Linked DNA regions of Homo sapiens: regions 2 and 3 are each reported to be linked to region 1. The links are microRNA targets in miRTarBase. Many come from high-throughput screens and were not tested one by one. Region 1 holds a microRNA gene; each other region holds the end of a gene's coding sequence.
Evidence for each region. Region 1 holds the annotated microRNA hsa-miR-3646 (AAAAUGAAAUGAGCCCAGCCCA, at 1,332-1,353, opposite strand). A microRNA usually pairs through its seed, bases 2 to 8, with sites in the 3' UTR of a target mRNA and lowers its output. Matches are read on the target gene's strand: a 7mer-m8 pairs with bases 2 to 8, a 7mer-A1 pairs with bases 2 to 7 and ends in A, and an 8mer does both.

Region 2: the mRNA of PTPN14 is a reported target of hsa-miR-3646. Seed matches in the 3' UTR shown: 7mer-m8 at 2,484-2,490, 8mer at 2,328-2,335 and 7mer-m8 at 2,164-2,170.
Region 3: miRTarBase lists ABHD17B as a target of hsa-miR-3646. Seed matches in the 3' UTR shown: 7mer-m8 at 1,853-1,859.

The regions. Positions count from the first base shown.
Region 1 is chr20:44,406,274-44,409,529 of GRCh38, reverse strand. MIR3646 (microRNA 3646) reads right to left here and starts at 1,410; the gene lies at 1,327-1,410. HNF4A (hepatocyte nuclear factor 4 alpha) reads right to left here. Exons shown (of 10, transcript NM_175914.5): 3 at 2,055-2,149.
Region 2 is chr1:214,355,186-214,358,441 of GRCh38, forward strand. PTPN14 (protein tyrosine phosphatase non-receptor type 14) reads right to left here. Exons shown (of 19, transcript NM_005401.5): 19 at 1-2,865. The coding sequence ends at 2,737. Among named protein-coding and RNA genes, the nearest start is that of SMYD2, 76 kb to the left of the region's middle.
Region 3 is chr9:71,864,012-71,867,267 of GRCh38, forward strand. ABHD17B (abhydrolase domain containing 17B, depalmitoylase) reads right to left here. Exons shown (of 4, transcript NM_001025780.3): 4 at 1,141-2,995. The coding sequence ends at 2,776. Among named protein-coding and RNA genes, the nearest start is that of ABHD17B, 46 kb to the right of the region's middle.

The DNA.
Region 1 (3,256 bases):
ACCTGAACTTTCACTGTGAGAGAGCTGTTCTCTCAAACACAGTGCCCTCTGGATGACACCTATGAGGAATCATAGTGCCTAAAATCTTAGGCTTTTGGGATAATGGAATCACTGACTAATACAACCACAGAAATGTTGGAACCTTAGACTGTAGTTCTCAATCTTTTTCTTGCCTCCAACTGTTCACACATGCATCAGGTTCCCATTCATAATCTTTCCCAGTCCACAAAATGGAAGTTGAAGTGGATGAGACAGGCTTAACCCCATTGAAAACTGGGTTTGGGAGAGGAGGGAGTATTTGCAGCTTAAAAAGCCCCTCTTGCCCTTGGAGAACCACTGATATCTAGATGTTAGAATTGCAGCGTTCAGAGCAGGCCTTGGGGACCACCCACTCCTGCATCGGGATCAGCAAGCCCAGATTTTCCAAGACAGCTCATGAGCCCAGACTAAGGTCCCATAAGGATGAGACATAGAAGATATTTCCAAGGGAGGGGGCAGAGAAAACAGGGGGCCAGGAGCAGATACAGGGGAAAGAGAGTCTACCAAAGCCTCCCCTCCCCTCCTTCTCAGTGGGCCCTGGAGCAAGCTGGGTCCTACGTTCCTGCTTCTGGGGTGTGCTGGGGTGATGGGGGTGAGGGGTGTTTGTACCGAACTAGCAGGACTAGACCAAGGTTTGGCTGGTACGGCACAACTGTGGGCTAGAAGGGAAGGTCTGGGACTAGTCGCAGAGCTGGGAAAGGTTGAGTTTAGAGGAGCAGGAAATGAAGAGATTCGAAAATGAACTCGTTACTTTTTTATTTTTTTTGAGAGAGTCTCGCTGTCTTGCCCAGTCTGGAGTGCAGTGGCATGATCTCAGCTCACTGCAACCGCCTCCTCTTGGGTTCAAGCAATTCTCCTGCCTCAGCCTTCCGAGTAGCTAGGACTACAGGCATGCACCACCACGCCCAGCTAATTTTTTTGTATTTTTAGTAGAGACGGGGTTTTACCATGTTGGTCAGGATGGTCTCGAACTCTTGACCTCAAATGATTTGCCTGCCTCGGCCTCCCAAAGTGCTGGGATTACAGGCCTGATTCACTGCGCCTGGCCTCAAGTTACTTTAAAGCAGTTAAAAGATTTTTGCTTCCCTTGCTTGGGCTGAAAACAATTTTAAATGTCCCTGGTATCTGGAGAGCATAAAATAATAGACAGTGCTGAAGTGTGGTCCAAATAGCAGAAGCTCTGGGACTTCAGATCTTCCAAGGATCAGTTGTGGGGCCCTAGGCAAGTTGCTTAACCATTGTGGGCCTCAGTTCCTTCATCCACAAAAAGGGAGGAATTGTAATAGGTTCAATGGGCTGGGCTCATTTCATTTTCACAACATTTTCCCATATAGGGTTGTCATGAAAATGAAATGAACCCAACCTACTGAAGTGTGGAAAAAGCACAGCCCAGTGACTGATACCTGCTGGTAGCAGGAAGCCTGGCAAGACCTTAATAAATGTTGTGCTCTGGTCTTCTCCTCCTTTGTCCAGGATGGGTCTGGGGTCTTGTTCCCATTTTCTAGAATGTGAAGACTTTGGAGATCACGTGATACCCACGAATGAATACTAAGGGAACTGGGGCATTTGTCCCTGGGACCGGAAGCTCAGGCATCGGGCTCCTCTGGCTGTCCCTTTTGTAAAGTTGGGATAGTGAGTACTCAGATGTTTGCAATATCATTCTCTATGCTTGTCCTAACGTTCGAAATATTATATTAAACACACACACACACACACACACACACACACACACAACGTGGCTGCTTTGTGGTGGCGCAGACAGGCAGGCAGGGGTGGTGGTTGCTGGGAGCCTGAGGAGCCAAGAGTGGGAGCTTATCTCTCTGAATCTTTCTCAAGACCAAGCCCAGCCGCTCCCTATGGTCAGATTTCCAGGCCCTCCCTCTTCTCAGCCATTAGCCAGTCACCCTGGGGCCTGCCACTGAGTCATAAAGTGTGGCTACAGTTGTAAATGACTGTCGGGGAGCTGTGGGTGCAGGTGGGGCAGTGGTGGTGGGGCGGGGAGGGCCGAGGCTCACCTTCCTTCTTCATGCCAGCCCGGAAGCATTTCTTGAGCCTGCAGTAGCGGCACTGGTTCCTCTTGTCTTTGTCCACCACGCACTGCCGGCTAAATCTGGGGAGGGCTTTGGATGGTTGGATGGAGAAGACACAACTTCCTCCTCTTAGGACAGAACTAGGGCCCTGGCTATCCAGTTGACCCCCCAACCTCAGTGCTCTCATCTCTTCATCCCGGGAGTTCTCTCTTGAACCCACCAGGAGCTGGAAAGGTGCTATGAACTCTCTAAGAGCCCAGTCCTGTCCTGCTAAACATGGGAAAACTGAGGCTCAGAGAGGCAACATGTGGTCCTGGGTCGCTCTGCTGGTTGGTGTTAGAGCTGAGTTGGGAACCTTGACCTCTGGAGTACCAGAGCCCTGCTATTTCCACCACATCCTATAAAAGCTCAGAACCCATAGCAGGCTCCTGGTTATGGCTCAGAGTTAATACTCGGTTCACATAAGCCTCTCTCTGGAGGGGGATAGGAAGTAGAGGCAGTGCCACACCGTGGTGATGGGTGGGGCCCTGAATGTTAACCCTGGCTCTGCCAGTGATTCAAGCTGGTTGACCTTGGGCAAATGCCTAGCCCTCCAAGCCACAGCTTCCTCCTCTATAAAATGGGAATAACAACAGTAACCATCTCACAGGGGTGTTGACAGGTGAAATGAAGTCATGCGCCGATGGGGCACAGTCTTTGTACATGACAAGTGCTCGCAATTGACAGCTGCTATGATTTTATTATTGTCATTACCCAGAACAGGAGATGCTTTCGAAAGAGGGCTCTCCAAGGCCTTGGGAAGACTTTGGGGTTGGTGGAAGCCCCTGGGGTAGGTGGAACGGCCTGGGGTCAATCTCCTATTTGTCCCAAAAACAGCACCAGACTGGAAGACGGGCTCATCTACTGAGGCTTCAGGAGAGGCCCCATGGAATGGGAAAAACAACAATGGGCTCAAGGGGATGGGTAAATACACACAAAGACTTAGTATTGTGCCTGGCATATGATAAGAGCTCAATAAACGGCAGCCAGTAGCTTGATGATCAGTAAATGTGGTTCCTAGAATAGATGCTCTTCTTGGATTCACAAAGTCTTTTACAAAACCAGAAGAGCCTTGAAGGCCCTGAAGGGCAGCTGTCTCTGGGACCTACCCACTCAGGGAGAAGACAGACCTTGGGGCCATGAGCCCA
Region 2 (3,256 bases), not on the chromosome of region 1:
ATTTTGTACACTAATGAATATTCCCGTAGCATACGGCAGGGACAGTGGATGAATTTCAGGGAAGCCCATGAGCTCTGACGACCTCAAAGACGCACCAGATCTATATGCTGTCCACATGAGACATATTCTAACAGTGCCCACCTTGGGGCTTAGAGATAAAAGATAAATACTGATGTTGTTCATCACGCAATAAACCAGTAACTGAGACCACTTGCTAAAACATCCCTAACAGCAGAATATCCCAAGGATGGAAAAACCTCCAAGGAAAGGAAACAAGTATCTTTTTGCTTATTGATGAGCTTCTTATAATAAGGGTTATAAGCTCTGTTCACTGAAAATACATGTAATACTAATGGGTTTCTTTCCAGGACATACAACAAAACTCCAGAATCTACAAAGATCAGCAGATTATACTCCTTCACTGAGCCTTCAGACCTTGAAGTAGAAGACACAGGGGAAGCCCTCCATCCCCAGATATTCCGAGTCTAACTAGAGTACAGCCACCACAACACCTGGCCAGGTTGAAACAGAGGATTCCTATTCCGAAGAACTTAATGGGGAATATATACCTGTTGGCATGTGGTGATGGGATGTCACAAAGGCATACTTTTTCTGGTTGATTTGATGTCACTCCATCTTTTTAGCTCACGGGGGACAAAAGCAGCAATGAAGAAAGGCATATGGAACTCTCACAGCAGTCAATTCTAAGAAAAAAAACTGCAATTAAATTTTCCTTTCTCCTAACATCTAGTTTTTCTTGACAACCTTTTTTCCTTTTTTTTTTTTTTTTTTGGAGGCAGGGTCTCTCCGTAGCCCAGCCTGGACTACAGTGGCAAGATCACGGCTCACTGCAGTCTCGAATTCTTAGAATCAGGTGATCCTCCTGCCTCAGCCTCCCGAGCAGCTGGGACTACCAGGGCATACCACCACGCCTGGCTAATTTTTGTACTTTTTGTAGAGACGGGGTTTCATCATGTTGCTCAGGCTGGTCTCGAACTCCTTAGCTCAAGCAATCTGCCCGCCTTGGCCTTTCAAAGTGCTGGGATTACAGGTGTGAACCACCGTGCCTGGCTGACTACAGTTTTTTAATTGCACGTTTGTTCTTTGAACTGACCACTGTGGGCATTCCATGCCTTCCTCCACTGCCGCCTTTTTCCCAAGCTGAAAAGACAAGGAAGATGTGGCATCAAATTAACTAGAAAGAGCACGCCTGTGACTTCCCATCACCACGTAACAACAGGTGCATATCAAAGCTGTACTCAAGAAAAGGTAGACATAGAATGATAAATCCCCCAAAATGCAGTAAGAGGAAAAAAGTACAAAACATGATTTATTGTGTACCATCCTTGGAAATTCAGAAGGACACTGACCAATGAAGCCATAGGAAGAAACTAAGAACTGGGCTTCAAAGTGAAGATAACTGACCAGCGAGTGGATTTTATGAAGAAAAGGAAAGAAGCACAGGGCTCTGCCAATGACAATTCTACCATCGTTCATCAAGTGGCCCCAAGTTTGGACTATGGGGTCCCGAGTGGGATTAATTCTGATCTTGCAGACCAAAGCCTGAAGATGATATCAGCACAGCGGGGGTCACATTTGATGTGTTTCCTGGCCAGGACCCCTGTTATGTAGCTAAATGCCTTACAGCTCCCATAAATCAGCTTCCCCATCTGTTTCCTTGATGGCCTTTCCAATGACTTAGTGACCTCAACTTTTAGGTCTCTGTCCAGCACACACATCTTATTTAAATAAAAAACAATGATCATCAAGGCCCTGCCTGAAAAACACAATCCTCAAAGGCCCTGCCCAACTCCTTTCTCTTTCTAGGTCTGCTATCCTCTCTCAATCAGGGTAGAGCCTTAACTGCACAGATGGTCTGGTCCAGAGCCTCAATGCCACCAGACAGGGTCCTACTGAGCAAACAGGAGAGGTAGCAACAAATACCCAAGGTACAGTCGCCAGCAGGGAAACACAAGCTCCAGAGCCCAGGATAAGGGGTGGTCAAGAAAAGCACAACACAGAGCTTGTCTTTCGGCCCCAAAGATGGCAATTACTGCATTGTAAAGGCAGCACTGTCTTTAGCTATTCTGTCTTTAACTCAAGCTTGGGGGGGAAGTTGGGGTGGGGCGTGGGGGAGAGGAGACTACTGAGGATGAGGGGTGGAAATGAAGACGAGAGGAAACTGTCTATCAAGGCTCATGAGCCCCAAAATATAAGAGAATCGTGTTTGTTCCTTCAGACCCTTTTCTTTATATTTCAGGATGAATTCATTTTCTTACCGTCTTTGCTTTGGATATAAGCAATGAATGATGAATGAATCAAGCTGATAAATGAATTAAGCTGATGAATTTCAGGGTTGGTTACAAATCTGGCTGCAACTTCACAAGAGATGTGCTCCCTCATGCCTCTGTCCTCAAAATGATCCAGCAGGCAACCTTACCTGCTGACATATATTACAATACAGATCAGTCAAGATGTGGTTCAAATGAAAAGTACTATATTACTAGGGAAACTGCATTATAATAATTCACAAAAGTTATTCCAAAGGGGAAAAAAATAAATTATCTCATATAAAATAATACATGGTATGTGTGAATAATCTTGGCTACTGTCTTCAGAGAGCCTGTTTGCTGCCAGCCACCTGCACCCCTGTGGGGGGAGCAGATGTTGTCTGGAGGTGACTCTCCTCCAGCGCGATGGAGCTGGGTCCCTCCTCCAGGAGCTGGATTGGGGTGATTAAATGAGTCTGGAGTTTTGGAGGAACTGGATGAGGACTTGGTAGACAAACTTGTACTGAGCGATAGTCTGGATCATGAACATCCTCTGCTCCCTGAGGAGCCTCAGCATCATGGGCACTTCCACCTTCTGCAAGAAAAGAGAGAAAGCACAAGGTCCTGAGACAGGAGGCTTCCCTTTGAGCATTCCTCATTCCCTCATTCAGGAAGCACTCACCCACTGCCCATGTCCAGGTACAAGAGAAGGCAAGGGACTCTGCCCTGGCTGGGTTTTATGCATCAAACAGTTTATATCAGCAACTGGAGAACCTGGTCATCATGTGTCACTGGTGGGATATTTTATTTTTATTTAATTTCAAATTTTCTGAGAGGGTCTTGCTGTGTCACCCAGGCTGGAGTACAGTGGCACAGTCATAGTTCACTGCAGCCTTCAACTCCTGGGCTCAAGCAGTCCTCCTACCTGAGTCTCCCAAAGTGCTGGGGTTACAGGCGTGGGCCACCACACCTGTCCTGGTGTATTA
Region 3 (3,256 bases), not on the chromosome of region 1:
AATTAGATCAGTTTCTACACAACTGACTTACACGTTATTTCCAGCAAGCGAAAATCTCCAGATTTTTTCATCTATACTCTTGACAAGTGCTGTTTCCTTTTTCTATCAATGGCCTATTTGTTTCTAGGATAAAGACTAGGGTTCACCATGCCATCTGTAATTGTGTTCCTAATTAGCAGCCTCATGCATAGGCCAAACTTTCTTTTTTTTTTTTTTTTTTTTTTTTGAGACAGAGTCTCGCTCTGTCACCCAGGCTGGAGTGCAGTGGTGCGATCTCGGCTCACTGCAACCTCCACCTCCCGGGTTCAAGTGATTCTCCTGCCTCAGCCTCCCAAGTAGCTGGGACTACAGGCGCGTGCCACCACGCCCAGCTAACTTTTTGTGTTTTTAGTAGAGACAGGGTTTCACCGTGTTAGCCAGGATGGTCTCGATCTCCTGACCTCGTGATCCACCTGCCTCAGCCTCCCAAAGTACTGGGATTACAGACATGAGCCACCGCCCCTGGCCCAGTCTTCATATTTAACTGCACCTTCCTTCCTCTAGGCTTCCATATATTATTCATTCCCCTCAGCTAGGAATGCTTCCCCTGGGTCACCCAGGTCTACCCAATTCTTAGTTATCCTTCAAAACTTAGCTGAAATACCACTTCTCTGGGGGACTCTTCCTTGCCCTGCTCCCTATGTTCCCCTCCCAAAAGTACCTTTTACCTGTTACAATACCTTACAAATCTCCTTCAGCCCTTATCAAAATAGTAATATTTGTGCAATGAGGTGCCTGTCTCCTTAGCTATACCATGAAATCTATGAGGACACAGTCTGTCTTTACCTAGCACAGGTTTTTGCATGATTTATACATTCAGTAACTGTCTGTTGAATGAACGAACACTGAATGAATAGGATCAATATTTAGATTTCCCCAGGTAATCAAAGAAAACATTTAGCTAAGCCCTGGGTTGTATGCTGTACAAAGAAGAAACTGTATAGGTTACAAGACAATCTTGAGAAAGAAAGACCTCTCCAAAAAAGTGATGATATAATTTTAAAAATTTTCAAACTATGTCCTATAAAAACGAAGGGTAATTTTTTTTCACTCTTTCTAGTGTGGGGGTGGGGAGCATGGAAAAAGGCAAATAAGCACAGGTCAGTGGTATATTTGTTGTTTTACTGTTAATTTGACACATCTGAACCAAAGCATTCACAATACTTGATATACTTTGAAGAGAGTCATATACTATAGTCTTAAACATAACCACGGAACGAGCAGAACAATTAAAACTACATAAGGCCTTAAAATATATCCACAGTGTGTATTATTTCCATATTCATTCATTTACAAATTAGACTACATACCATTAATTTTATTTTTATTTTTCATTGTTTTATTCAGACAGGGTTCATTCAAGGAAAGGCAACTTAGTTTTTGTATGTGTGAGCTTTATTTTTTTACTATATTGGTTAATATAAAAGTTATGAATTAAACGTATTCTTATCTCCTATACCCAGGAGTGAATCCATGAAATTCTCAGATAGTAATCCAAAACAATAGGTCCTATTTTTAAAAATAGCTAAAGTGGGCCAGGCGCAGTGGCTCATGCCTGTAATTCCGACACTTTGGGAGGCCAAGGGCAGATCATGAGGTCAGGAGTTCAAGACCAGCCTGATCAACATGGCAAAACCCTGTCTCTACTAAAAATACAAAAATTAGCCAGGCGTGGTGGCAAGCATCTGTAATACCAGCTACTCAGGAGGCTGAGGCAGGAGAATCACTTGATCCCGGGAGGCAGAGGTTGCAGTGAATCAAGATCGCGCCACTGCACTCCAGCCTCAGTGACACAGCAAGACTCCATCTCAAAAAATGAAAAAAATAGCCAAAGTGAAAAGGGATCTGATAGCCAGTCTGTTAGTGGTCTTTAAGATCAACTCATGGACTTTCGGGATTTCATACAATGAAGACTACTGCAATTCTATGAAGACTATGAGATCAGTCAAAATTTAAAACATCGTATACAAAATCATTCTTGAAATCTCTAAATGCCTTTTAAGTAACCAGCATGAAAATTTTAAGTACTTGCCTCACAGTACCAAACTTAGAAGTCAAAACTAGTTAAAATTCAGTGCTATCATGACTTCTCATTTACAAGGTAACTCATTGGTAAATTAATAGATGGCATAAAAATTAAGATTTACATCTTTTTTAAAGGATAAATGTATGTAATCAGAGTATACAGAAAATTCAATGTATTTTACAATAAAATAACTTTAAACCTCTATCCCTGTACAACAGGGTTTAGGTTAATTCTAGTGAACTTGCATGGTTTTAAATCTCTTTTACAGTTCATTCCATTATGAGTACTTAAATTGCTTTAGATACATAGCTTTTTTCAAAATATTACAGTTGTATTCCAGGATAAGATTTAATATATTGAGATGTTTTAAAAATATTTATAAATTTGTTTCTAGTATGCAAAAGCATTTGGCAATACTTTTACAGCATTTGATTTTATAGAATTAAAATCTCATACAGTACTCATCTTGATGTTAAAAAAAAATTCACAGAAAAAATATAAATTACACAGCCTGACTGCACGGTACTGTTATTTCCAGTTTTTAGTTCTGGTAATTAAAACCTTCATTAAGTCTGTTAACAAATCATTACCTGTACATTTATGAAGGCAACTGACATGATTTGCAAACAAAACCTTCAGGTTTTATGTTATTTACCAAAGAGTGCAGTTCAGCAAGAAAGGAAAACCCAGTAGCAAATTTACAGAATATTTTACAAATTTACCAGTTCCTGTGACACAAACTGTTTCAACCTTTCAAGATACTGTCCATAAAGTTCCACATCATTGTGACCTGCTCCTTCAACCCAGAGAGGCTCCACAGGTCTTTGGCAACGTTCAAACAATGCGAGGCCATGTGAAAAGTCAATGACTTCATCTTCAGTCCCATGAATTATTAATACTGGAGAGGTTATCTTAGAGATTTTGTCAATGCTGCAGGGAAAAAGGAAGGGGGAAAAATGCAATAAATTAACTATGTAAAGGAACATATTCTTGTGCTATATCAGACAGATAATTCAAATATGAGAATTGTATGAATCAGTTCAGAAGGTAAGAATGTCTCCTGAATTTCCAGTAAGATTCAAAAATTGCCTTTTACATACTCCCTACCTTAAGATTATCTGAGGAAGTTATTTTCATGCACTTGTTTTGATGGTTTTGCTGGAATCACTCAATGCTCTTGTCACTCTACTG